7 linked regions of the Homo sapiens genome follow. The protein of the gene in region 6 interacts with the protein of the main gene of each other region in a pairwise test. Each region holds a gene or a part of one and is shown on either strand. Other genes may lie near its edges. The genes, in order: SPRED1, ATXN1, PRKN, BAG6, TARDBP, GPR75-ASB3 and PRPS1.

Region 1 (4,715 bases), on a different chromosome or scaffold from region 6:
CATTATTACTCCCACAAAGGTCAATGACATCCTAACGGTTATATCCTTGTCTTAGAAATCACCAATCTAATTTTTCTGTGATATCTAACGCTTTCTCAATACTCCTTTTTCCCTTGGCTTCTAAAATACTTTCCTCTCAGAGCTCTCCTACCACTTAAGCCACTTCCGTCTTTTGGCGTCTCTTCTTTCTTCTACTCTCCCTTAAAAACACTGCTGTTTCTCACTTGTCATCTTTCCATTATTACTTAATATTCTCAATGGGAAATTTTCCACTGGCCTCAACTACTATATATGCTGAAGATGTCACTATAACTCTACCCTCTTAACCTTTTTGAGAACTCAACCTATAGTTAAAGCACCTTGTTGGACACTTTCTACCTTGACATCCAGTAAGCACCCAGACTAAAAAAGATCAAAACTGGGTTATTTTCCCATTTAAAAAACCGGGTTCATCTCTATTCCCACCTTCATTTAAAAGCATTACAGCGGCCTAAATTTAAAATGTTCAAGTCATCCCACAACCTTCCTACTCCTTCCTTCACATTCAGTCAAATAATCGTTGGACATTTGAATTTCTTCTCATATGAGTCCCCAATAGTTCCAAATGCTCTATTCCCAGCTCTGTTTTGTTGTCTTACTACATTCTTCCTCATCAACTGAAGTTCATTTTCTTCTCCCTCCAGTCAACTGTCCTAAGAAGCCCTGCTTTACACAAATTGGATTATCATTCCCTCACTTAAAATACTGAGTCGCCACTGTCTACATGATGAAAACTTCACCTGGTGTCTCTCATTAAGTATCCTTACTGACTAAAGATAGTTGTGGTGAGGAGGGAAGGTAGCTCAAAGAACAAATTTTCTTTCAACTCTTCGGTGTTTCATCTATAAAATTAATGGGAACTCTGTTCAAAATTCATCTTATTACTAACCAGTCAGATAAATATTCAACTTTTCAAGAAAAACTGATTTCCAGGGGCTTCTGCCATGCTCATATTGTGTCTCATATTTTAGGCCTAGCCACCATCCCTTGCCCCACAGTTGGTGATATACAGGTAAGCACAAATCTACACTACTCACAATCTGGTCCCTCAACACTTTCCTTAACAACTCCTCCAAACAACTGTATCCAAAAAGGTATTGCCTTTCCTCCAACTTTTTCTTCTTTCTGTGCTTGTCTTCTGCCCCCTCTCTTCCTGGTTGGAATACCCTTCCCCCATTCCATGCTCTCATTCATGGCTGACTCTTAAAATGCCACTTCTTTCCTGAAGCCTTCCTTCACACAGTCACCATCCTGCCACCAACTCCCAGGTAGAATCACTTTCTCCTTGAGCCTTGAAGAACTTTATAACCAGAACACCCATCACATTTCAGAAGTATCTATTTCCCTTGTGGACTGTGATAGCGATTTTAAAGTTTTAATTATCTTTGTATCTCCAAAGCTAAGGCAAAAGTCAAGTGCCTAGTAAGCACTCATTCAAATGCCACTGAACTGAATTTCTTTAGGAAAAAGTTATTAATGGTCCCTGTTCAAATCTATCCTGAAAGTGTAAAAAGTCAATATATATAATCCAGCAACTAAAATTCTGAAATGTTTAATACTGCTTTTACATATTAAGGGGGGAAACCCCAGAACTCCCCAATCTCACAGTATAAAAATAACACAATAAAACAGTAAAAAAAAAAAAAAAAGAGTTTGGTGACTGTGCTGAAGTGAATAAAAACACTCTGAAGTGGTAAAAGTTACAGTAACTTTGAAAAAGTGGCATCAGAAAAGACACAACTCACTAAATTTTATCTAAATTTTTGGCAATCCTGCCACGGGATGCTAATATATAGAAGTCATTAAAAAACACTGTATTTGTGAATGTAATTCCTAACTACATGAACAGCTCAAGCAAAATGTGTTTAATCACATGCAATAGTATCACTAAATACTACCAGGAAAAAGAATTACATTCCACATTCCAAGTTCATAATGGCCTTTATCCAAATTATAACTCCTGTTAGAAAGGCGTGAACCCAGGAGGCGGAGCTTGCAGTGAGCCGAGATGGCGCCACTGCACTCCAGCCTGGGAGACAGAGCAAGACTCCGTCTAAAAAATAAATTAAAAAAACAAAAACAAAAACAAAAACAAATTATAACTCCTGTCATACAGATTAAATTTAGACATAAAATTATTAAACTGATATTAGGCTGAAATTTAATTCCAATTACTCTTGAATTTACTAAAGGTTATTCTTTGCTCTCCAAACACAGAAAGAAATGCCTTGCAAGGTAATTCAGAAATTTCAGACACAAGGCAATTTCCACCAGTCAATCCTACATCTGAGTAACAGAAATGATATATTAATTCAGAAGTACAAAAAAATCAGTTATGATTCTAGAACTCTTGGACTAAAATCCCAAAGTTAAGTAAATCCCACACCCTCGTTTTAAATCAGAAAAATTAAAAATCTGAAATTCTAGAGAGCAGAAAAATAATTTGTCTCTATATTTATGAACATTTACTTTATTATGGGCAGAGATTAAATGACATTTCTGGCATTTATTAAGATCGTATCATTTCTCTCCATTAATCTTCAAATGTGATAAAATGCACTGCTTTTCTCATGTTGATCCATTCTTACATCCTCAAGATAAACCCCATTTGACTGTGAGGCTTTGTTTTGTTCTAGTTCGCTGAGTGAGGTTTGATTTGCTAGTTCTTAAAAATTTGCAGCCACTATTTGTAATATTTCGTCTCCTCTATTCTCTTCTTTTGGAACTGTTAGCTGTATGTTGGAGTTACTCATCTTATCCTCATGTTTCTTACTCTTCCTATTTTATATCTCTATCTTTGGGTTCAGGCTTCTGGGCTTCTGTCCATTGCAGAAGATTTTAGCCTTTTGTGTCATGGATGTTTTTGGCAGCCTGGTAAAGCTTATGACCCCTTTCTCAGAACAATATTAGGGGCCTAAAACAACATACACAGTATTACAAAAGAAATTAATTATATTGACATAGTTATTGAAATATTTTTCATTTTGATATGGTAATAATGCGGTTCTTTATTAACACTTTAAAATATATGCTCTAGCAATAGCTTTAATAACTATAATAATTTCAAATTAGTGATGACTATAAATGGTATTTCAAGATAGCTGTAACAGCTAACAGCAATTGTGCTATAAGAAAAAAAAAATCCGTAGTTTCTATTGGTGTTATGGGTTGAACTGTGTCTCCCCCAAAATACATGTAGAAGTCCTAGCCCCATGACCTTATTAGTTAAGATGAGGTCATACTGCAGTAGGGTAGGCTCCTAATCCAATGACTGGTATCACTCAAATGAAGATAGAAACACACAGGGAGAACACCGCCATGTGATGATGAAGACATGGAATTATGCAGCTCCAAGCTCAGGAATGTGAAAGGTTCCCAACAACCACCAGAAGCAAGGAAGACAAAAGAAAGGATTCCCCTACTGGTTTTAGAGGGAACATGGCCCTGCCAACTTTTTGATTTTGGACCTTTAGTAATTGTGAGACAATAAACTTGTTGTTGCTTTTTAAGCCACCCAATTTGTAGTACGTTGTTAAAGCAGCAATAAAAACTAACACATTTGCTGTCACAAGTACCTCTAATACTGTCATAGCTTGTTAACACTTCCTTTAATTATGAATGTTCAGGTTGAGATTAGTAAGAACGTCACATTTTCCTTCAAGCCCGCAAACACTCTGAATTTTAAGAATGCTTTGTCTACAGCAACATAATACCTTAGCGTGAAATCCATTATTAATGAACTGTTTTTCATTCTGAGTATCGCAAAAACACAATCTCACAGATATGTAATAATTTTGGTTCTGGATTCTGAGATGCAGCTATGACATAATACTTATCATAAATCTAAACATTAAAGAATAACAAAATTCATTACCTGAGTTAACTTCTTAAACTAATATACAGTTATCCCCTAGTGTTACATTACTGATTTGTATAAGTGACCTAGTAAAAAACTTACTTCTGTAAGTAAAGCATAAAGACTGGTATCTTGTTAGCATATTCCTTGTAGAACTAATCAAGTTGGTGTTTAAGCCCAATAGCCTTTGTTTACTTATTCATCCACAGATGGAGGCCATACTTTTTTTCTCTTTTTTAAAATGAGGGCTGTGCATGGTGGCTCATGCCAGTAATCCCAGCCCTTTGGGAGGCCAAGGCAAGAGGATCACTTGAGCCAAGGAATTTGAGACCAGCCTGGGCAGGACCCGATCACCACAAAAAATTTTAAAATTAGCCAGGTGTGGTGGCACACCTGTCGTCCTAGCTACTTAAGAGGCACAGGTGGGAGATCACTTGAACCCAGGAGTTCAAGGCTGCAGTGAGCTATGATCATACCACTGTACTGCCCTCCAGCCTGGACAACACTGCAAGACCCTGCCTCTTTAAAATAAATAAATACATAAAAAACAAAATTGAGTAGTACAAAATTTTGTGTCATCAAAGATACATGGCTATTAAGCCCAAAGTAAGTCTTAAAAGACTATTAATATACCAATTGTTTCCAAATTTTGTATCTTAATTGTTCAAAATGCATGCTTTTACCTAATCTTCCTACCACTTCTACTCTTAAGTCTTTTGTTTAAGTATGTCAAAAATAACAATATAATAAAATTAACAAAGTCTAAATCATACACCATCAACAAAGGAAGGGCACATATGATGCTTAGTCCAAATTCTTT
Region 2 (4,715 bases), on a different chromosome or scaffold from region 6:
CAGGGTTACTATAAAATCATCCCCAAACTAGTGAATGCTGGACTGATTTTCAGTCTTTGATTACTGGAGCTGATCTGCACATTTGCTTAGGCTGATTTTAAACTTAGTTTGGGTTTCCTAAGCTCACGCCAGGTAACAGTAGGAAGAAGGAGGCCCAGGTTTATATTGGATGTCAGAAAGAAACTATTCTGGAGCTATGAATATGATCTCCAATGTGAATAATCCGTAAACAGGTAAGTGAGCCAATTATCCTTGGGTACATGGCAACACATCTCGGTACTCATGATTATTTTCATCCATACACACTCACTATTTTTAAGAGCACAGCCCAGCTGGAAAGGAAAATAACTTCCACTTCTTTCCAGCACTTTTCAAAGTAATGAACAGTAGCCAAAATGTTCTTACTTCTAACTAATCCATTCACCAAGCATTTATTTAAGCATTGATTGCCTGCCGAGGACTGATATGCAAAAGAAGGAATTCTTGTAGTCCTTGGTTTCCCCACATGTGATCTGTGCGTACAGAGAAGGAAGGTAAGCTGTTATACACTATAAGGTCTTTCAGATCTTTAGAAGGCACAGTCCCTCCACCAAGAAGCCTGTTGAGTTACAAATATAAATAATGGCCAAGTTAAGTAGAAGTTGACAAAATTCTATTTAATCTTAGTACTTCTTTAAGGATGAGGAAGCAGGGAGGGAGGATCATGATGTCATCTCAAATTAAGCATCAAAATACTTGATTCTCAAATGAGGTGCAGGTACCATAAATTTACAGACAGTGCTTTTTATGAGCTCACCAGTTGGGAGAGTGTTTGCCTATATGACAATGTGTGTGCACACAATCCTGTTTACATATCACCTGGCAGATAAGGTTTTATAGAGTCCAAGTTACAACCTCCTCCTAGTTTGCTGAAGTGCAGAGGAGGGTCAAACATGATGTAAATGCCATAGAAGATTACTTTACTCTTGCATGAGTATGCTTTCTTATTTCAAAAGTATTTGTGTTGCTGCACTAGTTAGGATAATACAGAGAGTTTACATAACTTGTATTCCATCAGAGGGAAGAAGGCAAGAATACAAGCAAGGCAGCACGTATTCACTGCAAAAACTTACAAAATAATATACCAGAAAATAATTTATAGGACATTTTATACAATAATATACACCAAAAATGGAATACTCAATATTTTTAAAACCCAGCAGAGCAACATAATACAATACTATTAATATTGGAAGATTAACAAGAAAGACGGCCTAAACAAAACTGAGGTAATGGTCAGTAAGTACCAGGAGATAATGTGAGAAAGGGGAACAAAATTAAGGGCACAAGAAAATAAAGTTTGCCATACACAGTGACAGAAAAATATATTTTCTTTGAACGTTAGAAGGATAGATGCTATAGGTTAGTAGCTACAATAACTGTCACGAAAAACTTCTGCTACCTAACTCATTCAAAACTTGTCATGTTAAAGGGCACCTAAGTGTAAAAAAAAAAAAAAAGAGTTCCTCTTAGCCCAAATCAAAACATCACAATCGGGGAAACCTCTGCCCTCTTGAGTCTCAAATTCTGAGTACACTACCATGAATTTTCTGGAAAGTAATTTTCAGGTAGGATACAATTTTTGCTTACATTGTGGCAATTATCATTACATTTTCATTACTCCACAAATGGGATGCATTAAAAGTTACAGAAAAATCAATGAAACATTTCTGCTAACATGAAATATGTCAAACAAAATATAATGCTTGTTGCTTTTTTGTCCATAATTGTTCTCTCTAAACGTGTTTTGGTACATTTGGGATGGTAGTAATGCGTAATACAAATATTTATAGTACATTAGCCTGAAAGTTCAAATTATGAGCGTTATAAAATATATTACTACACTAATAAAGACAAATATCCATAAATATAATTATAAAAGAATAAAATAAAAAACTTTCCATAAGATTTGTCTAAAACCATTCTTTTTATTACTTCTGTAATTTTAAGCATTTATATATTTTTAAAAATCTCAATGTAATTACCGTTCTTTCAGCCAACATTTAAAAAATTCTGTAAAACTGACACTGTATATCACTTCTTAAAAAAATTTTGAATGAGTACATTTATTTTATTAAACTAAATTACATGAAAATAAAATGTGAACATAATTGATGACTTAAAATTCTTATCTTAGAAAAGGAAGTTCTATATGTAAGGTCCTAAAACAGAAATTATTATTTCTATTACCATTTCTACAATGTATTGCTTTCAATGCTTTTATCAAAATAAGGAGGGCCTGCTTCTGATAACCTTGGAAGTATGACCAGAACTAAATCTGTTATTTGAAGCAATTAAGCTGCACAGATCTAAATCTCTCACAGAAACTAATCATTCGAACTATTGAATTACTCTGAAAATACAGAGCAAGGAAAGTCAAATAATCTATCTCTCCCCTAAAAATAATAGCCTGTCTTACTTCACTATTGTCACTTTACCGATGCAAGTATTTAAGCTGTTCAGATCCTAATCTATGTGTTATTTTCAGATAACTACAGTTTAAAGAATTAACATTCACTCCCACATTTACCTACTTACGTGAGTTTCAGAATTTTAGTAAAATATGTTTATTGCTTAACTTTTAATAGGAAACAAAATGAGTGTTAGTGTTAGTCATCAGAAACTGTCACTCAAGGTATGTGCAAAAAAGTAAAATCCACTTGACATTTCAGAATGAAAAACAATAAAGGCACAACATTATTCAAAGAAATGTGCGTCCTTGGACTCCATAATGACAACAAAAACAGGAGTCATAGTAATGTTTACTAATATTTCAATAATCTCAGCACTGGCCTTTCCCAGGACTCCTAGGCAACTGACTTAGGTATGTTGAAACTTACAGGCATTTGACATGTAATCTTGTGGCTAAAGAGTTTCTGTTTAATCTTCCTCTAAGTGTAAAAGACAATTCAGAAGTCCTGAAGTCTAGTCGTAACATTTTTGACAAAGTGTCACTTCTGTTTACCAAACCCTCTTAAAACGAAATCCGCAAGGAAAAATATTGCCTTTGGCGGTTCCCACCAGGTACATTTTTTTATACTTATTTTCACATGAATTTATTTGTGCACTGAAAAATATATGTTCACATTTTACTGCAAGTAAAGCATTTTTCTATATGTTGCAAAATAGAATCCAGGACCTCCAAGGCATTGTGTAATATTGACATCCTTGCTTCCCATCTATTTACCACCTTATAAAAGTTGAGTAGCTAGAAGAAATAATAGCTCATTTTAACTACAGCAGTGCTTCATCTGACCAGGCCACAATGAATTTACCAACCACATAAACTCACAAAACGGTAAAAACTCATAAACCCCCTGGGAATAGAGTTGAGTAGCTCTCTCAATCCTAGCCCTGGGGGAAAAAATTTACCAGTTTAGCTTTGTTGGCCATAAAATTGTAAACTGACTGGCAGTCACAACTAAATCAAGACATAATTCTCAATTATCTTTTCTTTCAAATACCAGGGTTATGAAAATACTCCCCCCCGCCCGCCCCCTGCCCCACTTAGTTGGATTGCCTGAGCAGCACAGAGCTTCAGCAACTAAAGCAACTTTTCCTTTTTTCCTTTTTGCCATAATATTATTTCTCTTTGCTTAGCCAGCTTTATCAGTGGTGCCCTAATGCAAAGACTAGAATACTGCTTTCTAACTGCTCACTAAATTACATCCTAAAATAAAGTACATGTTTATTGTCCAAAAGCACCATGCACTATCAGTCCTCTAGCTATAGGCCTCTATCGTTTCTCGCTTAGCTAAGGAAAAAAAAATCCTTTTAACTTACTACCAAAGATCATTCAAATCACAGCCAATAGATCCAAATTAAGAATGAATACATTCAGAATGTCTGCCTACTGTCAGTACCAGTTTTTGTTATGATGGCTGTCAAGTTTTAAAATGTGACAATGGGAATATATTTTCCGAATAAGTTATTCCCCTGAGTAAACCCTTTAGAAATCCAGCCATCGCTATGGGCAATGGAGGTTCCAAATGATGAACGCTCTTCACACTTGAAAGGGTTAAGTGACTGACTGCAAGGCCAAAGGCACCAGACTGCAAAAGAAATGTTGCTTTAGTGAGCTCTGAAAGGTTTCTAACAAGTACCAAATACTTGTTGATCTGTTCACAATAAACACCAGCAGGATTGTCAGGCTCCTTTCACTGTCTGGGGAGATGCATTTACATACTGCACCTAGGAAGAACAGCTTGTTGGTCTCCTTTATAAAAGTTGAGTAGCTAGAAGCCTCATTCAGTGTCTCCCATCCAAATGACTGAAAGAAGATGCAATTGAAATAGTGGAGTCTCTCGTCTGGCTTGGGCAGCATAAATGCTGTGCATAAAACACTTGGAGTAGTTCAGGCACAAGACAAACCCACCTGAATGGACGAGGAACACTGTCTGTTGCCATGGCAGCCTGATCTAATTACATGAGTGATCAGGACTGGAGTAAGTGCACCGAAAACCTACACCACTGACAGGCAGCCAGGAGGTTCAGGGGAGCCCTTCAACCTCTGCTTTATGTAGAAGATGGCATTCAAGTCCATTTATTTGCGGAGCTGCTAAAATATTGACTGATGCATGCACAGTGAGAGGGCAATCAGAGGAGATTAAATGCCACAGCGCTAGCCGTTATGGTGCAATCCCTTTCCAAGAGTTCCTGTGCAGGATTTTCTCTTC
Region 3 (4,715 bases), on a different chromosome or scaffold from region 6:
TGCTGTCGCCTCTGCCATTTGGCACACAAATGGATGCTCCCTGAGGGTGCCCTCCTCACAGTTTAGCTCATCACACAGGCCTCGCGGCTGCTGTATATTACGGAACTCCCCACCAATACTCTTTGTCCCCTTGACTCTGCTGTTTCTCGATAGAACACACACTTACTAGCTGCTCCAAATAGAATAGCTCCGTTGAGGTAGGCATCTTGTCTGTTTCTATTTTCTGCTACATCCCAGTACCTGGCACTGTGCTTGGCACAGAGTAAGGACTCAATCGTTATTTGTTTATGTAGTTCGTTAACTGTATGACGGATATTGGAGGAGCCTCCTATTTTTTTGCTAGGTCCAATAGCTTCATCTCATCTGTCAGGAGATGATGAATGGCGCCTCATTTAGGAAACACCAATAACACATGAAGGTAATTTACACACAGGCACCCTGGAGCCCAGGTGCAGCTCAACGTTCTTATTGAAAATGTAGTAAAAATAGATTTTATTCACTGACCATATTTTAAGGAATACTATTTTTTACTATTTCGGGCAGTACTACTCAAAGCACAGCCCCTGGGCCCGCGGTGTTAGCATCACCTGGGAGCTTGCTGGAAACGCAACTTCTCAGCTTCCATCCAAGGCCAACTGGTCTGGGCCCAGTCATCTGTGCTTTTATAGGTCCTCAGGTGATTCTGATGAGCACTAAAGCTTGAGTGGCACTGCTGTAAAAACTACTTCAATGACTCGTTCCAGTTCTTTGACGTCCTCTTACAAGTCTTTAGTGTGACATGCTTGCGTTCTTAGTACCAACAGTGTAACTGGTTCTTCATGTACATCATGTTATCACCTCTCATGTTGACCACTTATCTTTTGCCAACTAAAAATACTTGAAAGGCACCTTCTCGGGTTTCAGAAGTTTCCATTTGTTTCGACAACATATGAGGCTACAGCCCAGCTATTCACCCATTAGAGCCCTCCCACGTCCAGCCAGCACTTATATTCTTCGAAGTTAAAATTGAAGACTCTGGAAGCACAGAAAATTGGGATTTCTTTTAATCTCTTTTTCTGAGGCACAGGTTTTCAAACATTGTATAACCAAGGATTTTTTTCATCTTTTCAAATGATAGATGTTTTATGTGTTTAATATGTGAAGTACGTAAAGAGGAATGGTCTCAGGCTGCTGTGATTGGCTTGGTGTGTTCACCTCTCACCGACCTGCCTCTGTTCTCCCACCCAGCGTCCGATTGTTCCGTGAGAACAACAGGTAGGATCCATAATTGTAAGGCTGGAAAACCTTAGCCATAGGGCAGAGTTTCTCAGAGTATGGTCAGTACCAACATTTTGGGGCCTCTACCCCCAGACAAATACATCAAAATTTCTGGTCACAGAAAAAGAATGAAAGAAGATTTTTTTTCTCGCCATTCTGGCCATCAAAGAAACATGGAAAAACATGCAAGATAATTCTGCACATGAGAGTCTGTGAATCTCTGCTCTAGTAACTTTACGCTATCATTTTTAGTGAAGAAAAATAATCATATAGGCATACTGTTTGCATATAGTCATTTCAAATCATTCCATTCAGTCTTAACTCAAACCAAGAATGAACCAAGACATTTGAAGAGATGAAATCTCAATTTCTCTGTATAATTTTAAATAAAGCATTCGCTCTAAAAGCTAAATGCACAGGAGTTCTGTTGAATGACTGACTATGTTTACAATTTGAAGCAATTTAGTAAACATGTATCACCACTCTTCTAAGAGATTTTGGGGAAAACTACAGTTAATTGGACAAAAACTCCATCCTCAAAGAGATTAAAAGGTGAAGTCAGAACTGGAGTACAAAATAGCAAGTAATAAGGGAGAGTCCTAAGAGTTCTGAAAAGGATTCCCTCCAGTTCTAATGAGCAGGAGAGGATTACTTGTAGTTTAGCTGTTAGTTTAACACAGAGTTAAATCTGAAAGTTGACCTGGGATGCACCATCTCTCTTTTCCCAATCTTTACAGATGCAACATATCTTTACAGAGGCCTTTTAGTAGCAGCATGTAGGGTGCCAGGAAGTTGCCCCCAGTGTGTAGTGGTGCAGGGAGAAGTGTTAGGATGGCAACCCTGCAGCCCCCAACTGCACCATGTAGAGTTGCCTGAGCCAGTCCCTAGCCTGCCAAAAGCACAAGGCTGGCAGGCCACAAGACAGAGGGGTAAATGAGAAACAGGGTGATCAGAGGTTAGATGTGACTCAGACATGAGTGGAAAGTCAAGGTGAAACAGCGCATCATCATAGATCATACAGTACTCTGAAGGCTGCTGTCATTTACCACATTCCATAAATTTACTAGAATTTATTCTCTATTGTTTGGGTTGAAATAATCACACATTTCAATTTAAAAATATAAAGAGAATATTAGACATTTAGCAGAATTTTCTCAGTGCCTACTGGTACTTCAGACCCTATATAGAGAGAATACTATATTTTCTTAAAATATTATGGTCTAGAGAGAGAGAGAGAGTCAGTTGAAAGTGTCAATAATTCTAAGTTCATTCTCATAAAAGAAAATTCTGGAGAAGACCAAGGGCAATTTTATGATAAAACAAAATAAGAAGACTAAAATTTTCAGATGAATATGGTTGATAAGAGAGTAGAGCCAGATGCACTAGGAAATGTATTAAAGAACATGAATATGTACACAACAGGATTCTTGTGCTCAAATTGTTTTTAATATTCAGATAATAAGTAAAGGTTTAATTTTGCTCTAAACAATGTGATTTTTTTATTTTTAGTAAGAATTTTATTTTGGGAAATCAAATTAAAGAACTAGTAGATAGGTCTCCTAACATAATAAATCCAATCTGTTATACAGTTGTACAGGAACAAACATAGTAAATATAGGGTTTGGTACCATTTTTGGTTTCAGGCGTACACTGGGGGATTTGAAACGTATTGCCTGTTGATGGGGAGGGACAACTGTACATGTGAGACACCCAGAAAAAATGCATAAATCTCAAAGAGGTGCCTAAAATTCAGGCTTGAATACCATCTTCAATGGCAAAGGAAGAAAGGGAGAGGAGAAGACAAGAGTAAGGTTTGTTAGGCAGATTATTCAGTTGGTGCCTTCTCAAGGATCAGAGTCTCCAGAGACTCTGTCCTCCTCATCCTAGTAAGGAGAGGGAGACACCCTTACAAATGGAGACTTCCTTGGTAGATATAAATTTCCCTTACAAAAGGGTCACTTCTACTCTGTTTTTAGAGCTTTTCCTGTGTCTACTGTTTCTCAAAATAATCAGCTTAAAATAATACTTATGCTAAAGTGGCATATTTTGGGGTGGCATATTCTGGTCTCATACACACTCAAGGTGGAATTTTCCATTGTTTGGTTTATAATGTTGGAGCATGAGTATTCTCTAGAGGTGTCAGTGTCAGAATGATCTTATACATACTCTGGTTGAAACGTCAGAATTGTTATGGGCTTGGGTTCGATATTTATATTAATATATTATTCTGGTCACAAGAGTATTGCAGGGGTTTAGATTTATCTCATTTTTCCCCATTTTTGACATTTATTTCCATTTCTCAATTTTTCTTTCCAGACCTGAGGTGCCCAGCTCACATGAAGCAGAGCCTCTTTCCCTCCCACAATCATCTCAAGATCACCAGAGCATCAGTTAATGCCTTACTTTCTGGGCTTATCTACTCCTGTATTTAAAGATGTTGTTTCTACATTTTCACTTGTCCTTGGAAATTATCTTTTTTTATTTTTTGCAAGATCATCGAAAATTTTTAAGTTCCTTAAATTTTATTTAGTAAGTTTAGTAGGAGGCATTTCTTATTATGTTAGGCTTCCATCTTGCAGGCCCCAGAACTTTCTGACACTGTGAAGGCCATACCAGCCCACAACTGCCAGGATCTATTGTATGTGGGAGGAAAATCAACTTCTACCCTGTAAAGTCATTGTGATTATTTTGTGTCTTCTGTCAAACACAGTAAAAATTAATTCTATTACACCTTTGACTATTTAGATTAGAGAATAAAAGACTAAGAGGCACATATTAATTTTTTTAAAATAACTAAACAATAACAATCTTTGCCAAAGAAAAGCATTTTGAAATGGGTGGTAGCATAGAGAGAAGGAAGAGTCCTTTCACACTAAGGATGTCATTGCCATTGGCATATCTGGCTTTAGAAACTACAAATGGCTCGATTAGCTTTAGAGTTCTTTCTGCTTTTTAGAATTTTTCTACATCACTAGAAACATATCTCTTATATTTAATCTCAATATGAAAACCTGTTTCATAGTACTTACAATAAATGCATTCTCAAATGTTACATCAAAGTACTCCACCTACAGTGATGTCTCCTTGTAGTGAATTAGAGACTCCAATCCAAAACGTATCATAAACTAAATATGCACCCGGTGAGGCCATGCTCCATGCAGACTGCACTAAACAAACAAACAAAATGCTTTAATAATCTTAGAGCATTCCAATTACCTGGACTTCCAGCTGGTGGTGAGTCCTTCCTGCTGTCAGTGTGCAGAATGACAGCCAGCCCCACAGAGTCTCCTGGGAGGACTGAGCTGCTGAGGTCCACCCGAGTCAAGCTCTGGGGCTCCCGCTCACAGCCTCCCGCCGCGTTTCTGGGGTCGTCGCCTCCAGTTGCATTCATTTCTTGACCTTTTCTCCACGGTCTCTGCACAATGTGAACAATGCTCTGCTGATCCAGGTCACAATTC
Region 4 (4,715 bases), on a different chromosome or scaffold from region 6:
ATCAAGCTGGAGTCCATCTCACTAATAAAAGCAATAATGCCTACTGAGAATACCATGTCCTCCAAAACTTTCAGTTATATCCTTGGAAGTTTACATGTAGACCAAATCTTTGCAAATAAATTATATCTTATTCACATAAGGAACATCCTATTAAAACACTACTATGAATCAGTAAGTCATCATATACTGATCTCCTGTACTTTACATTTTCTAAATTCATTCAGGGGCACAAGGGGTACGATACGAGGACAGTGCTTACAGCAAAGATTATCACCTTCTCTGTAAGGGAGGACAAAATCACTTACAGGTTTAGAGAGAAATTGTTTTGTTGCAATGTGTGTTTTTTTGTTTTGTTTTGTTTTTTGAGACAGTCTCGCTCTGTCACCCAGGCTAGAGTGCAGTAGTGCAATCTCGGCTCACTGCAACCCCCTCCTCCCGAGTTCTAGCGATTCTCCTGCCTCAGCCTCCTGAGTAGCTGGGATTACAGGTGTGCACCACTACATCCAGCTAATGTTTATATTTTCAGTAGAGATGGGGTTGCACCATGTTGGCCAGGCTGGTCTCAAACTCCCAATCTCAGATGATCCGCCCACCTTGGCCTCCCAAAGTGCTGGGATTACAGGCGTGAGCCACTGCACCTGGCCCTGTTGCAATGTTTTTCCAGGGAGGGAAAGAGTTATCTGCATTTCAGCCTGTTCTGTTTTGGGAGTACTGGGGCTGAGGAGAAAGGGCAGGGCCATCAAAGGGCTCACATTGTTATTGTAGTCCGTGGTGGCAGCAGCACCCAGAACCTCGTAGTAGCGCTGCAAGAAGGGCTGGAGGCGACTCTCCAGCCGCTGTAGCTCCTGGAGCACCTCGACATACTCCGCAGGGGAAGGATGGCTGTGGACAAACCCAAGGGGCAATGAGCCAAAGCCTTCCTCAGATTCCCACCCTCACAGTCAACAGGGACCACATGTGCCCTCTTTCTCCCTGGTCTCCCAGAGCCCTGGCCCAATCCTTCTCTGGACCAGCAGAGCTTCTATTCTCTTCAACCTCCGCCTCCCAGGTTCAAACGATTCTCCTGCCTCTGCCTCCCAAGTAGCTGGGATTAAGTTGCCTGCCACCACACCCGGCTAATTTTTGTTTTTTTTTTTTTTTTTTTTTTTTTGAGACAGAGTCTCGCTCTATCACCCAGGCTGGAGTGCAGTGGTGCGACCTCAGCTCACTGCAAGCTCCGTCTCCTGGGTTCACACCATTCTCCTGACTCAGCCTCCCGAGTAGCTGGGACTACAGGTGCCCGCCACCATGCCCAGCTAATTTTTTGTATTTTTAGTAGAGACGGGGTTTCATCATGTTAGCCAGGATAGTCTCGATCTCTTGACCTCATGATCCACCCGCCTCGGCCTCCCAAAGTGCTGGGATTACAGGCGTGAGCCACTGTGCCCGGCCTGTATTTTTTAGTAGAGACAGGGTTTCACCATGTTGGCCAGGCTGGTCTCGAACTCCTGACCTCAGGTGATCTGCCCGCCTCTGCCTCCCAAAGTGCTGAGATTACAGGCATGAGCCACTGCACCCAGCCAAAGCTTCTATTCTTTACTCCCACCCATGAGAGGATAGGGAGAAGAAAATGAACTGCTCCCACCCTCCCCACCACAATCCTGCACCTACAATGGTGAAAGACTAATTCTAAGAAAGAGAGCAGGCCTTCGTGAACTCAGAGGAGAATTCCGATCAGGCTCAGGAGATACCATTTGGATTTCCTTGCCGTAGGGAGAGCAGCAGTTCTTCTCAGCTGCCTGTCCTAGCGTCATTTACCTATACCGAGAGAGCCCCTCCTCGCCCCTCAATGCTAACCCTTCAACTAAGACCTCCAAGTAATCCTTTCCCTCCCTTGCCATGGTTCATTTCCTTCTCCCCATACTTCACTTAGGATTCCCCACCCACTAAAGATTCCCTCCATCTCTCACTTGGGTGCATTTGTTTCCGGGGCAGGTGTTGGGCCCGCTGGGGCTGGGCCAGGAGTGAGCTCCGGGTTCTGGGCTGGGGCACGCTCCTCCACTTCTTCTGCCTCCATGGGCTCCCGGGGAGGTGCTTCACTTTCAACTGGTTCTGATGTTTGAGAGCTCAAGGCTACTGGCTCCGGGGTCACAGCCGGTGGCTGCGGGGGCGGCTGACTGTGCTGCGGTTGGGGCCCTCCTCGACACTGAAGGTAGGGGAGAGTCAGGATACCAAAGGCAGGGTAAGACTGCTGCAGAGGATTACTCTACAGGAGACTGAACAGAGAAAGTATCCTAACTAGACTCCCTGAAGGCATGGCTCTGCAATTTTATCTCCGACTCGCTAGCAACTAGCATAAGACTGACACAAATTAGATGCATAATAAGCATCTGTAATTTTTTTTTTTTTTTTTGAGACAGAGTCTCGCTCTGTTGCCCAGGCTGGAGTGCAGTGGCATGATCTCAGCTCACTGTAACCTCCGCCTCCCAGGTTCAAGAAATTCTCTTGCCTCAGCCTTCTAAGTAGCCAGGCCTACAGGCGCGTGCCACCACACCCAACTAATTTTTGTACTTGTAGTAGAGACAGGGTTTCACCATGTTGGCCAGGCTGGATTGGAACTCCTGACCACACGTTATCCCCCTGCCATGGCGACCCAAAGTGCTGGGATTACAGGCAGGAGCCACCACACCCGGCCACAGCATCTGTAATATTTGTAAATAAATTTCTAACAAAGAGTAGAGATTGTGGTTTCCTTTCCTCCACAAGTTGGTTTCCCAGCCTCCACAAGTTAAGAGAGTAGAATCCTTTAATTGAAAAGAGATGCCATGAGACTAAGTCTGAAACAAACTCCCCAGATACCAGGCACCAAGAGGATTGGCAGAAATGAGAGAGCCTCACAAAGATACTTTTTCTGCCCAAAAGAATGAATACTGCAGAGAAGACTAGATTATGAAGGCCAAACCCTGTGGATGTGGCCAGTGAAGCCCTAACTCCCAGGCTGAGAGAAAAGGGAGAGGGAGGGTGGAGAGAGACCCTAGCCAGCCTTGCCCACTTACCTCCATCCGGGATAGTAAGGTCTGTATATCCCTGATCATGTGCTGAGCCATCACCAGCCGTACCCGGGGCTCACTCTACAATGAGAGAAGGTTTATCAGGGTAGGTTACAGATGAAGCCATGAGTTCTACCACCTACTAAATCAGGTCCCAGCCATCTCTCAGCCAGGTCCACCCCACCTCCCAGCCTCCTTCTCCCAGATCCCCTTCCCTGACCCTCGGAGGCCCCTCAATACCTGAATCGGGGCCTGTTCCATGTTGATGTGAACATCCACAGCAGAGCCGTCACTCTGGGGAAAGGGTAAGGGAAGTTGTTCTGGGAGAAGCCAACACTAAGGCCTCCACACCTCCAATTCATTCCCTGGAGCCCTACCTCCTTTTCTCCTTAAAGACTGAGACCAATAGCACACCACAGGGCCCCCTGAACCCAATCTAAAGATGGAAGCATCTATCTTATTAATTCCCTGGTGCTACCACAACCAAAGCTACCCACAAAAGCCCTCCCCTGTGGAACATAAGCTTACAGGAAGATTGAAGGTTCCAACCATGACATAGCTGTTGGCATTCCGGTCATGAACAGAGGCCCCAGGCCCCCGAGTACCAGGGGGGGATCCCCCACCATGAGTGGCTGAGGCAGACCCCGTCCCAGAAGATGCCCCAGAAGGGAGGTGAGTCTGAGGAGGAGCCCGTTCCACCAGGTGGATAACCTTTCCCCCAACATCTGCAGAAAAATAGACACACACCAAAACATAGTATGAACAGGTAAACCCATGGCCTCAGTTCATCCCTCCAGACAGTAGCCCCAACCTCTGAACTGCCTCCCCAGCCCCCTTACTGTATTCCTGAAGCTTCTTATCATCTTGCAGAACTCGTCCCTGGTAAATGAGCCGTTGTTTTTCAGATGGGATGCTGACAGAGGCAGCAATGTGCTCCTTAAACTCTTTTACATTCATCTGAAAAGAAGAGGCATGCACAGGAATGGAAAGAATGGAGGAAAGAGGAAGAACAAAGACAGACAACCGAGTTGTGGAGGTGAGGGGTAAAAACCACCACAGAATCACTACCCGTTTGTCTTGACCGTGAGATCATTACTGTGCAAACCCTTAAACTAAAGTAACAGCTGTCAAAATACAGACAATAAATTTGGCTTGGCGCGGTGGCTCACACCTGTAATCCCAGCACTTTGGGAGGCCAAGGCAGGCAGATCACATTAGGTCAGGAGTTCGAGACCAGCCTGGCCAACATGGTAAAACCCCTTTTTTACCAAAAATACAAAAAAATAAGCCAGGCATGGTGGTCGCCTGTAATCCCAGCTACTAGGGAGGCTGAAGCAAGAGAATCACTTGAATTCGGGAGGCGGAGGTTGCAGTGAGCCGAGATCGCATCACTACACTCTAGCCTGGGTGACAGAGAGGGACTCCATCTCAAAAAATTAAATAAATAAACTTAATGAAGCTCAGGTTATAGATCCAGGAAAAATAACACGGATGAAAAACAAAAAAAAAACACATGGACATTATATTATCTGTCTGGCATCCAAGGGAGTATGTGTCTAGAGACATCAGTGACCCCTTTCCAAACACAAGATGATACCAGTTTATTTACCAGACTCTCCTGTGATTTCCAAGATTAAAAAATGGCAAAGAAGATGGGGTCTGGTATCAGGTTAATGAAGAAAGACT
Region 5 (4,012 bases), on a different chromosome or scaffold from region 6:
GACAGTGGGGTTGTGGTTGGTTGGTATAGAATGGTGGGAATTCAAATTTTTCTAAACTCATGGTAAGTATATTGTAAAATACATATGTACTAAGAATTTTCAAAATTGGTTTGTTCAGTGTGGAGTATATTCAGCAGTATTTTTGACATTTTTCTTTAGAAAAAGGAAGAGCTAAAGGAATTTTATAAGTTTTGTTACATGAAAGGTTGAAATATTGAGTGGTTGAAAGTGAACTGCTGTTTGCCTGATTGGTAAACCAACACACTACAATTGATATCAAAAGGTTTCTCCTGTAATATTTTATCCCTGGACTTGTCAAGTGAATTCTTTGCATGTTCAAAACGGAAACCATTGATTAGAACTACATTCTTTACCCCTTGTTTTAATTTGAACCCCACCATATGGATTTTTTTCCTTAAGAAAATCTCCTTTTAGGAGATCATGGTGTCACAGTGTTTGGTTCTTTTGTTTTGTTTTTTAACACTTGTCTCCCCTCATACACAAAAGTACAATATGAAGCCTTCATTTAATCTCTGCAGTTCATCTCATTTCAAATGTTTATGGAAGAAGCACTTCATTGAAAGTAGTGCTGTAAATATTCTGCCATAGGAATACTGTCTACATGCTTTCTCATTCAAGAATTCGTCATCACGCATCACAGGCCGCGTCTTTGACGGTGGGTGTCCCATTTTTATCCGCTACTCTTTATTTCATGGAGTCGTATCAACGCTATGAACGCAAGGCTGTGATATGGAACCAGAAGGCTGTCTGAACTTTTGAAACCTTGTGTGGGATTGATGGTGGTGCCGAGGCATGAAAGGCTAGTATGAGCGAGAAAAGGAGAGAGCGCGTGCAGAGACTTGGTGGTGCATAATGGATATTTTTTAACTTGGCGAGATGTGTCTCTCAATCCTGTGGCTTTGGTGAGAGAGTGTGCAGAGAGCAATGATAGCAAATAATGTACGAATGTTTTTTGCATTCAAAGGACATCCACATCTGTTGGAAGACTTTTAAGTGAGTTTTTGTTCTTAGATAACCCACATTAGATGAATGTGTTAAGTGAAATGATACTTGTACTCCCCCTACCCCTTTGTCAACTGCTGTGAATGCTGTATGGTGTGTGTTCTCTTCTGTTACTGATATGTAAGTGTGGCAATGTGAACTGAAGCTGATGGGCTGAGAACATGGACTGAGCTTGTGGTGTGCTTTGCAGGAGGACTTGAAGCAGAGTTCACCAGTGAGCTCAGGTGTCTCAAAGAAGGGTGGAAGTTCTAATGTCTGTTAGCTACCCATAAGAATGCTGTTTGCTGCAGTTCTGTGTCCTGTGCTTGGATGCTTTTTATAAGAGTTGTCATTGTTGGAAATTCTTAAATAAAACTGATTTAAATAATATGTGTCTTTGTTTTGCAGCCCTGAATGCAAAGAATTCATAGCAGTTAATTCCCCTTTTTTGACCCTTTTGAGATGGAACTTTCATAAAGTTTCTTGGCAGTAGTTTATTTTGCTTCAAATAAACTTATTTGAAAAGTTGTCTCAAGTCAAATGGATTCATCACCTGTCATGCATTGACACCTGATACCCAGACTTAATTGGTATTTGTTCTTGCATTGGCCAAAGTGAAAATTTTTTTTTTTCTTTTGAAATCTAGTTTTGAATAAGTCTGGGTGACCGCACCTAAAATGGTAAGCAGTACCCTCCGGCTTTTTCTTAGTGCCTCTGTGCATTTGGGTGATGTTCTATTTACATGGCCTGTGTAAATCTCCATTGGGAAGTCATGCCTTCTAAAAAGATTCTTATTTGGGGGAGTGGGCAAAATGTTGATTATTTTCTAATGCTTTGTAGCAAAGCATATCAATTGAAAAGGGAATATCAGCACCTTCCTAGTTTGGGATTTGAAAAGTGGAATTAATTGCAGTAGGGATAAAGTAGAAGAAACCACAAATTATCTTGTGCCTGAAATCCATTAAGAGGCCTGATAGCTTTAAGAATTAGGGTGGGTTGTCTGTCTGGAAGTGTTAAGTGGAATGGGCTTTGTCCTCCAGGAGGTGGGGGAATGTGGTAACATTGAATACAGTTGAATAAAATCGCTTACAAAACTCACACTCTCACAATGCATTGTTAAGTATGTAAAAGCAATAACATTGATTCTCTGTTGTACTTTTTTGTAACTAATTCTGTGAGAGTTGAGCTCATTTTCTAGTTGGAAGAATGTGATATTTGTTGTGTTGGTAGTTTACCTAATGCCCTTACCTAATTAGATTATGATAAATAGGTTTGTCATTTTGCAAGTTACATAAACATTTATCAATGAAGTCATCCTTTAGACTTGTAATCGCCACATTGTTTCATTATTCAGTTTCCTCTGTAAAGGGATCTTGAGTTGTTTTAATTTTTTTTTTCTGCATCTGAATCTGCATGATTTCCAAACCCTGTACCATCTGAATTTTGCATTTTAGCACTTGCACTATTACTCAGCAGCAGTAACATGGTAACACTTAAAATGGTACTCGGGGACCTCCAAAGACTAAACTGACAAGCCTTCAAGGAGCCCAGGGGTAAGTTAACTTGTCAACGGCATGGTTTAATCCCTTCTTTACACTTGTGTAAATTTCAGTTACTGGTCATAGAAGGCTTTCAATGTTGAGTGGCCTTTTATTAACATGTTTATGGTACTGCATAGATACGGGTATTTATTTTACCCTAAGAAGATTTTGAAGTTTAAAAGTACTTAAACTATTTGGCAAAGATTTGTTTTTAAAAATCTATTTGGTCAATCTAAATGCATTCATTCTAAAAAATTTTTTGAACCAGATAAATAAAATTTTTTTTTGACACCACAGTTTAGTGTCTGGAGTCTTACTGGAAAAACACGATTTCTTTTTATATGTGATATACAGATGCTGGAAAGTTACCTTTAAAAATTGAGTCTCTAAAGAAAAAAGAAAATAATAAAAATTGAGTCTCAAGAAGTTGTACTTCATATGCACAAGAGAAATGAGGCCAAGACTCACAGTAAGCTTTTACATGGAATGGTAACTTTTAGTTAGACTGAAAAACTTGAATGTTAGCTATTAAAACCTTTTAGGAAGGAATAGCCAGCTAAAACCAAATGAGATTTTTAAAGTTAAATCAGCACTTAAGTTGTGTCCTTAGTAGGAAAAAGTAGGAAGTTAACTACTCCGTAATCCAAGAGATAATGTGTAACAGTAAGAATGATTTTGTTGTTGTTGAGTATGAGCAAAGTAGCCCCTAAGTGTGTATTAGGGTTCTGTACTTAACTGTTGTGTGATGTGTGCTTTTGTTAGGCATCACTGTGCCCAAGTATTTCATGTTCATTGTAAAGAGGAAAAATACAGATTTCTCTATAATGTCACCACTTATTTCTAATGCCACTTTTCATCTTGTGGAAATGCCATGTTTTGATTCAGTCTTCTGAATTTGAACATTATTCAGGTTATTTCCAATTGCTGGGAATATCCTTACTGCTAAAATAAATTCTTAGCATTGGAATTGCTAGGTCAAAGATTATGCATGCTTTTTAAGGGCTTTTGAAATGTATTGCCAGTCTGTGGCCTGCCACCCTCCCTGAACATGCCTGGTCTTGCTTAAAATGTATTGCCAAATAGTCCTTGGGAAGTTTATGTTGTCTTTAACAATGTGAAATAGTACTACTATTCACGTTCCTTTTGTCTGACAATTTGATAAGTGAATAATTGTATCCCACCATTCTGTAGTATTGGTTTTTAACATGGAAATTTTAGTCAATACCTGGGCTGAAGTATCAGTGTTTCCAACCTACCTACCCAAAAAAAGGATTCAAGGTTATTCCTCAATCAGTACTGCCATAATATATAAAGCACTTACAGAGATCAATAAGAACAAGTTTAAAAACAAAGAGCATGGACAGGCAGTTTACAGAAATGCCAACAGCCAGTATGAAAAGAGACTGGCTTTTTAAGGTAATGAAATGTAATTTGAGCAGTGACATTACACTGGGTGGGCAAAGATGACT
Region 6 (3,802 bases):
GTCTCTACTAAAAATACAAAATTAGCTTGGCGTGGTGGCACATGCCTGTAATCCCACCTACTAGGGAGGCTGAGGCAAAATAATTGCTTGAACCTGGGAGGCGGAGGTTGCAGTGAGCCGAGATCATGCCACTGCACTCCAGCCTGGGCAACAAGAGGGAAACTCCTTCTCAAAAAAAAAAAGAAAAGAATCATATGATAGCAGTTTCATTTTCCAAGATGAAAAGTGTTAAATAAAGAAGTTAATGTCTGCTTTTATGTGAATCGGACCAAAGCCTTTTGTTAATTCAAGAAATCTTTTATAAATCCCTGTGAAATTTAACAATGATGAACAGACCAGGATCAGAGCATCAAAGACAAGTACTATCAAGAGCACAGCTGATACCAGACCAGCTAGTCTGATTCCAGGTATAGGGTTCTTTAAACTCTAATACCCATAGGGCTTGAGACCAATTAATTCTCTAACATCTTCAATATCTTCCAAGCCATAGAAGTTAACTCATCATCGTTTTTAGTTTACTAGTTTAGGTTTAGTTTAGTTTATTCAGAATTAAAGAAATCACTCAAACTGGTGTTTCAAAATGCCAAATAAGAAAGCAAAAGTTATCGATTTTGTACATAAAACCTAAGTCTAAGCTGGGCATTTTCTTAAATCATGAGTCATAGATTCCCTATTATAAATAATAAGATTACAGTATCTATAGTATATAGCACGCACATTTATTTCTAACTTTTTTCATATCCATATCTTACTTAAATTTGACACTTTTCTGTAAACTTAAAGGAGAAATGATGGTTCTCACATGAAAGATGGGAAGACACAGGTAAAGGGGCCACTGGAGGAAGTTGCAGGAATACATATGGAAAGCAGGCCCAAGCTGCAAACACCACCGTTTTCCAAAGGTTTAAGTAGATTGACTATGTTCAACTATCAAGTATAAGGAAGCCCTCTTAGTAGGATCATGAACAATAATTGGTCAGTTAATAGAAACTCACCTTAAAGCAGGTGACCACAACAACCATACATACTTTAAACATTCTAATTTAAAATGGATACATGAACACATCTAGAATGCAACATCTATGGCTTGCAGTTTATTTATGTATTTTTTACTCACCACTATATAAATAAGGACACAGTTTCACTTTCTTTGAGTTACAGCATGGATTTAAAGGCATGTATGAAACAAGGTGAGTGCATAATCCTTCCATATTTTTACAGGTTTTTTTGCTTTCAGTTGTTGTAGCCACGTCTAATTCAATATCTATTTCTGTTCTGTGCTTATCTTTATCAAGTCTTTTGCATTCTACTTTGCCTTAACAGCAACAATGATTCTCTTTTCACACTCATAATTCATTAGCTTGTGCAATCTGGAATTATTTAACTCCAATAATATGCACAACGTAATAAAAAGTTTCAGAAATAAGCATAACTGCTGTTTGGTAAGCACACACCTCTGCTGGTAGGAACACTGGCATTCTAGAGTGTAGCTGGCCAGCTGCAAACACAGAGCATGCCAATGGACATAGTCAGATGGAAATGAAAGAGAAAATGACAAGACTGTTTAATCCAGTGTGTGTTTTTAAAGAGAATTTCTACTTATATTCAGTTAGAGTTTAACAGGCATCTGTTAAATTGAATCTCTTCATTCTGCACATTCTTAGGAACATGAATACTTACTACACAACCAGAAGGAAGATAAAGGATGGCTGTGCAACCCGGAGGAGAGCTGCTCACATGGAGATAAGGGATCCTTAATGATGCTCCAGCTTCTCAGAGTGGACAGACTACACTGGCTTAAAATTCTATGGGCTGACTGGGAAGATTCCTCCAGATACCCTAAAACTTAATGTAGTGCTGACCAGCTTTTCTAGATTATGTGACTACATCACTGGAGGTCTATCTTTAAAGCTTAATAAATCATTTGTTTATGCTAATTATGTGTAGAAGCTTAACCATTAGTGATCAAGCCACACTAGACCAGTTCGCATTTGTTAGGAGAAGCGTAACTGACTTGCCCACTGAGATGTGGCACATCAACAACATAGCTGTTGTTAACTAGATCTCAATGATTTGACTCCCAGTCCAGGGTTCTTTAAACTATGATAAGCTCAATATAATTCTCCAACATCTTCTAAACCACTGAAACTATCATAAATTTCAGAATATCTTTCCATTTAATAATAAAAAAGGAAAAGTATAGCTACTTCAGGTATTGGTTCAAATTTTAATTGCACCATTTTGGTTTTCCTTCTAAGAGCACAACAGATCACTGGCCTAATGAACAATTAGAGGTAAGAACTATGTTCAGCTGAACTGAGGGAGTGTTTCATGTGTAGATTATTAACACAGACAATAATATGCCTGTCAGTGCCATTTTTGTTTAATATGCCAGTAAATACTAAGGGAATTTTATAACCATATATGCAATATTTCAAAGCACACAAAATCCCTATGAAAGTTTTAGTGATGCATAGTTATTTCCAGACGTGTTGCCACTAGGCTAGAAGATCAAGCCATGCCTTGAATTTATAATACGAAAAAGGCCACAGAAGCTGTATGTAAAACATACTTTCATGAAAACCTATTAAAACTATATTTTAGTTTTGTTAAATACATCTCCATGTTCTTGGATTATGGCAGTGATTGTAACCTAGAAAATGACGTCTGAAACCATGCTACACTTCTAAGTCACTTTTCTGACCCAATCATTTTTATTCAATATGTTAAACTTAGTTTATCCATAGATCTATTAGCAGATGAGTAATATTTAACTTTTAATTCCTATACAGAATTCCTCTATTTTGTTCATTTTGTTATATGTACTGGCAGAACAATCAAAATAGAAGACTACATGTTGTTATACAAAGTTTTGTTAAAATCAAAAGCACACACAATGATCAAAATAAACGTCACAATTCTTAATTCATTATGCTTATAAATGCCAACTTTACTATAGCACAAAACTATATCTATATCATACACACCCACTATATTTTCTACATTCATCTTTAGCCTTCCCTCAGGCCAATGTTCAAACAACCTATCTGCCTGAACTACATTTCTCTGGTTCCTTTGAAATGTTTTGCACATCAAATGCATTTATCTGACTTCTGAGACACCTACTACCATTTTTATTTTCATCATTAATATATTGTCTTTCTCGTTGGTATCCATCCTTTTGTTCCCAGTTTTTCTTAATTTACTTGTGTTGTCTCTCTCATTGACTATAACTAAAACCGCTAGAAAAAACACAAAAAGCAAGTACCTGAGAACTCTGAAAAACAAGTAATAGATTAGGACATGAAGTCAAAACAATAGGAATGGCCAGTATAAAGGAATGACCAGTAGAGGCAATGAATGGATTAAATGGAAAAGCACCATCTAGTAGTAACACCTGTGCTGGCGCTGAGGTGCCACTATTAACTAGCTGTGTGACCCTGGGCAAGTCATCTAAATATTCTGACTTTCAGTTACCTTTCCATAAAATGAGAATAATGCCTCATCTACAAAATGGGCATAATGACACTTCCCTGCATCAAAAGGCTGTTGATGATGTTCAAGTTGGAACACATTTGCAAAAGCATTTCATAAAGTGAAACACCACACAAATCCCAGGCACCACAGAATCTAGTGATCTCCAAATGTTTTGATTACACACTAAATTAGTAAAGTCTCTGACCACAGAATCCAATATATATTTTACATATAAATTACATGTATACTATTAACCAAACATTATTTGTACTATAAAATAAAATAAGCCAATATAAAATAAGATATATACTTTAAATAATTTCAT
Region 7 (4,715 bases), on a different chromosome or scaffold from region 6:
GAGACCTCCTCTCTACAAAACAATTTAAAAATTAGGCATGGTGGCAAGTGCCTGTGATTGCAGCTACTGGGGAGACTGAGGTGGGAGGATTGCTTCAGCCCAGGAGTTAGGAGCCATGATCATGCCACTGCACTCCAGCCTGGGTGACAGAGTGAGACACTGTCTCAAAAAAAAAAAAAATCAGAAAATTTTAATGCTGCTCACATTCATCCTCCATATATCAGCTCCTTGACCAAAATATGCATTTCCCTGGAGGAGAATGAAAGTCAGGCAGGCATATTGATTTCCAATCATGTATCAGAAGCCTATGGCTCTTGTTTCAGTCAAGAACACAGAGTATCATCTGTGCTCCAGACATTCACTTGCCAGAGTCAGGATGTTTGATTAAAAGTTGGAGAACAAATGAACAAATGTAGTTTGACAATTGATATCAGACAGTATAAGGGACAAGCTATTCTGCTATGTTTTTAAAACTTTATCATTATCGCTGGGCACGGTGGCTCACGCCTGTAATCCCAGCACTTTGGGAGGCCGAGGCGGGCGGATCACGAGGTCAGGTGATCGAGACCATCCTGGCTAACACGGTGAAACCCCGTCTCTACTAAAAAATACAAAAAAATTAGCCAGGTGTGGTGGCGGGCGCCTGTAGTCCCAGCTACTCGGGAGGCTGAGGCAGGGGAATGGCGTGAACCTGGGAGGCAGAGCTTGCAGTGAACCGAGATCAAGTCATTGCACTCCAGCCTGGGAGACAGAGCGAGAGAGCGAGACTCTGTCTCAAAAAAAAAAAAAACAAAAAACTTTATCATTATCAAGTAAGACCAGAAAACAACATTCTTAGACCACAGTGGCTTATCTCCCTTTACAAATGCCTCAACTATCAGTCAATATAAAAAATACCCACAAAATTGTTATATTGTCCATGATGTTACTCGATATCACTATTTAGAGGTCTCACCCATAAAATTCTTAGGATTTTTTGCCTGGAAGTTTCTAAATAACTTTATGAAAATAAAAACCACATAATCGATTGCATATGCCTTTATCCCTCTGGCTGTCAGGAAGCCAAGGGATACAGTTAAAAAAATGTAACACTAGGCTGGGGCGGTGGCTCACGCCTGTAATCCCAGCACTTTAGGAGGCCGAGGTGGGCAGATCACCTGAGGTCAGGAGATCGAGACCATCCTGGCTAACATGGTGAAACCCCGTCTCTACTAAAAATACAAAAAAAAAAAAAAAATTAGCCATTAGCTGGGCGTGGTGGTGGGCGCTTATAGTCCCAGCTACTCGGGAGGCTGAGGCAGGAGAATGGCGTGAACCCGAGAGACAGAGCTTGCAGTGAACCGAGATCGCGCCACTGCACTCCAGCCTGGGAGACAGAGCTAGACTCCATCTCAAAAAAATAAATAAATAAATACATAAATAAAATAAAAAGTAACACTAAACTTTAGAAATTGTTTTATGCCAAATAGTTGCCACAATTACTGTAGTCCATGGTTCTATAAGGCTTCTGATACCTACCTTAACAAACGGTTTGTACTAGTGACTATCAAACATACTTCAAATCCTTTCTTGAAAGCAGGTGAGATACTATTTAAAAATTAAATTATCACTGCTAATTAAAACATCAAAGGGCATCTGATAAATATATAGCTTTAATAGAGTTGATTATTTTATTTTTTAAATTGTATTTATTTTTTTTGAGACGGAATCTCACTCTGTCACCCAGGCTGGAGTGCAATGGTGTGATCTCTGCTCACTGCAACCTCTGCCTCCCAGGTTCAAGTGATTCTCCTGCCTCAGCCACCCAAGTAGCTGGGACTACAGGTGTGTGCCACCACGCCTGGCTAATTTTTGTATTTTTAGTAGAGATGGGGTTTTGCCACATTGGCCAGGCTGGTCTCAAACTCCTGACCTCAGGTGATCCGCCTGCCTTGGCCTCCCAAAGTGCTGGAATTACAGGTGTGAGCCACCGCACCCAGCCAAGGTGATTATTTTTAAAATATACATATTCTAACATCACATAAGGCTTGAATAATAATTTTTTATAAATCACTTATCAAACAAAAAATAAAAATAAATAAAAATCACTTATCAGCTTACCACCCAATACAGTCGCTAGTACCATTTTTGTTATTATATCACTTAATAATCAATCAACAGCTCAGCTATTTCTCAAAGCCAAACTTTTTTTTTTTTTTTTTTTTGAGATGGAGTCTCGCTCTGTTGCCCAGGCTGGAGTGCAGTGGCAGGATCTCAGCTCACTGCAAGCTCCGCCTCCTGGGTTCACACCATTCTCCTGTCTCAGCCTCCCGAGTAGCTGGGACTACAGGCGTCTGCCACCATGCCCAGCTAATTTTTTGTATTTTTAGTAGAGACAGGGTTTCACCGTGTTAGCCAGGATGGTCTCGATCTCCTGACCTCGTGATCCACCCGCCTCGGCCTCCCAAAGTGCTGGGATTACAGACGTGAGCCACCGCACCCGGCTCAAACTTTTTAAAATTAAAAGCTACCTTCAGCATAGAAGGTGTTTGTTATAAGGCATGTATCTAATAACTTGAAAAGGTTATTTAACTGTTTAAAAAATGTGGGGCTTTTGAAAAGATCTTACAAAAATGAAATAAAAGTAGAGAAACTTAGAAAGCAAATACATAAATAAAATAAGGTGGTGCAAGTAAACTAGGTGATACTGCCTTGTTTTAATGTGTATAATTCTAATTTCACTTATTAAAACCAATCTTTCCCTATAGTAGTACTATAACATACAGACTTTGTTTGACAAAGTCTTAAAAAGTCCGTGAATTGCACTCTGATTATACAGCTTGGTTCAACAAGTCCTCTAAAAATCTTAACCTTATTCTTATGGCTTCTTCTAAGTTATGGCAGTGATCGAGAAGAATATTTGTGCCTAAAACCTGTTTGCTCCTAACATAATCTATTAAGTGGAAAAACCTAATTCAGCAATTTAGAGAGTAATACTCCTTGTTCTCTCCCTCTAGTTAATGGAGTGTTCTCCAAATGGCTTTGGGCCAATCATTCTCTCAGCTGTTTTGGTGAGGCCAGAAGACTGGCTATGTCTATCCAATGAGTGAAAAAACTAGCTTCTCTTTTCCCTTTCCTTTAAGGTCAGGCATAAGTGTATCCAATTGAAATGGAATGTCAGGAAACACCAAAAGTGAATCTAAAAGGTGGATAGTAGTCTTAAGAAAATCTGAAGAATTTAGATTATGGAGATATTGGCATGTGCAAAATACATGGGATTAACTAACCACAACCAGAAGATACAGTTCTCAGGAAAACCCTAGGCAACCAAAGTTCAAGTCTTCCTCCTCTCAGCTAGTACAGAATAACCAAATAAACCAAAGTTATTTACAAATATTGAAGAGAATAGAGTCAAAATTTTAGAATATCTAAGTTTTTAAAGCCAGGTGAGAGATCTTGTCAGCAAAAATTTAAAGGAACAATAATACCCAGAGCTGGGCAAGTTACTCTGCATCTTACTGTAGTTCTCTTCTCTGTAAAATAGGGATAGTAAGAGTTATTCCTCATAGCAGTTTTGAGGGGATTAAACACAATGTATACTAAATGCTTAGCATGGAAACTAGCACATCTTAGGCATTCACTATACATTAAATATTATAGCCGGGCACGGTAGCTCACACCTATAATCCCAGCACTTTGGGAGGCCAAGGTGTGGGGGATCACCTGAGGTCAGGAGTTTGAAACCAGCCTGGCCAACATGGTGAAACCCTGTCTCTACTAAAAATACAAAATATTAGCTGGGCGTGGTGGCACGTGCCTGTAATCCCAGCTACTCGGGAGGCTGAGGCAGGAGAACTGCTTGAACCTGGGTGGCGGAGGTTGCAGTGAGCTGAGATCGCACCACTGCACTCCTGGGCAGTAAGAGTGAAACTCCGTCTCAAAAAATAAATACATAAATAAATATTATTAATATTGTATTACTGCTGATGAGACAGATTTGTTCAACTTTTCTGGGGAATAATTTGGCAACAGGTATCAAAAGCCTGAAAAATGGTATCTACCCTTTAACTTAATAATTACCTTCCTAGGGATTTATTCTAAGGAAATAATCAGAAATGGTCAAAGATTTATGTTCATGGATTTTCATATAAAAGCATTAGATCAAAAACTGGAAATGTCCAATAAGAATTTGGTTATATAAAATTATGGCATAACCATAAGGTAAGACTATATAGCTATTTAAAATTACATGAACTAGCCCACCTCAGTGGTGCATGCCTGTATTCTCAACTACTTGAGAGGCAGAGGCAGGCAGATCACTTGAGCCCGCGAGTTTGAGGATGCAGTGTGCTATGATTGTGCCTGTGAGTAGCTATTGGACTCCAGCCTGGGCAACATAGTGAGACCTCATCTCTAAAAAATAAATTAAAATCTTTAATAATAAAAAAAGAAAATCATATATACTAAATATTAAAGGGAGAAACTGTTCAAAATATATTGCTAAGTGAAGAGAGCTATAAATGTATTAAACATTCTTGAAAAAGTGTATCTTACACAAATATCTGGGAGGTCAGAAATGATAATGTGACATTTATGTCAGGTGGCAGAATTAAGAGGCATATCTTCTCCCTTCCGTGTTCTAAATTTTCCACATTTTCTGCAATATTATCACCACCCCTTCTTGTCAACATTTACTGTTGTACTTATTATGTTTTGGACAAGATCCTAAGAACTTT

What was found.
Region 1: the proteins of GPR75-ASB3 (region 6) and SPRED1 interact in binary tests that used the Homo sapiens proteins (3 or more experiments, as listed by UniProt).
Region 2: the proteins of GPR75-ASB3 (region 6) and ATXN1 interact in binary tests that used the Homo sapiens proteins (3 or more experiments, as listed by UniProt).
Region 3: the proteins of GPR75-ASB3 (region 6) and PRKN interact in binary tests that used the Homo sapiens proteins (3 or more experiments, as listed by UniProt).
Region 4: the proteins of GPR75-ASB3 (region 6) and BAG6 interact in binary tests that used the Homo sapiens proteins (3 or more experiments, as listed by UniProt).
Region 5: the proteins of GPR75-ASB3 (region 6) and TARDBP interact in binary tests that used the Homo sapiens proteins (3 or more experiments, as listed by UniProt).
Region 7: the proteins of GPR75-ASB3 (region 6) and PRPS1 interact in binary tests that used the Homo sapiens proteins (3 or more experiments, as listed by UniProt).

The regions. Positions count from the first base shown.
Region 1 is NC_000015.10:38,258,972-38,263,686, reverse strand, and holds part of SPRED1 (sprouty-related, EVH1 domain-containing protein 1), read right to left. Parts: intron 1-4,715. UniProt on the Homo sapiens protein: Tyrosine kinase substrate that inhibits growth-factor-mediated activation of MAP kinase. Negatively regulates hematopoiesis of bone marrow.
Region 2 is NC_000006.12:16,754,235-16,758,949, forward strand, and holds part of ATXN1 (ataxin-1), read right to left. Parts: intron 1-4,715. UniProt on the Homo sapiens protein: Chromatin-binding factor that repress Notch signaling in the absence of Notch intracellular domain by acting as a CBF1 corepressor. Binds to the HEY promoter and might assist, along with NCOR2, RBPJ-mediated repression. Binds RNA in vitro.
Region 3 is NC_000006.12:162,258,052-162,262,766, forward strand, and holds part of PRKN (E3 ubiquitin-protein ligase parkin), read right to left. Parts: intron 4,715-4,715; coding exon 4,474-4,714; intron 1-4,473. UniProt on the Homo sapiens protein: Functions within a multiprotein E3 ubiquitin ligase complex, catalyzing the covalent attachment of ubiquitin moieties onto substrate proteins. Substrates include SYT11 and VDAC1.
Region 4 is NC_000006.12:31,645,642-31,650,356, forward strand, and holds part of BAG6 (large proline-rich protein BAG6), read right to left. Parts: intron 3,987-4,715; coding exon 3,869-3,986; intron 3,755-3,868; coding exon 3,558-3,754; intron 3,324-3,557; coding exon 3,270-3,323; intron 3,111-3,269; coding exon 3,036-3,110; intron 2,186-3,035; coding exon 1,950-2,185; intron 883-1,949; coding exon 753-882; intron 1-752. UniProt on the Homo sapiens protein: ATP-independent molecular chaperone preventing the aggregation of misfolded and hydrophobic patches-containing proteins.
Region 5 is NC_000001.11:11,022,654-11,026,665, forward strand, and holds the end of TARDBP (TAR DNA-binding protein 43), read left to right. Parts: coding exon 1-1; 3' UTR 2-2,839; downstream 2,840-4,012. UniProt on the Homo sapiens protein: RNA-binding protein that is involved in various steps of RNA biogenesis and processing.
Region 6 is NC_000002.12:53,671,589-53,675,390, forward strand, and holds part of GPR75-ASB3 (GPR75-ASB3 protein), read right to left. Parts: intron 1-3,802. UniProt on the Homo sapiens protein: Probable substrate-recognition component of a SCF-like ECS (Elongin-Cullin-SOCS-box protein) E3 ubiquitin-protein ligase complex which mediates the ubiquitination and subsequent proteasomal degradation of target proteins. Recognizes TNFRSF1B.
Region 7 is NC_000023.11:107,630,911-107,635,625, reverse strand, and holds part of PRPS1 (ribose-phosphate pyrophosphokinase 1), read right to left. Parts: intron 1-4,715. UniProt on the Homo sapiens protein: Catalyzes the synthesis of phosphoribosylpyrophosphate (PRPP) that is essential for nucleotide synthesis.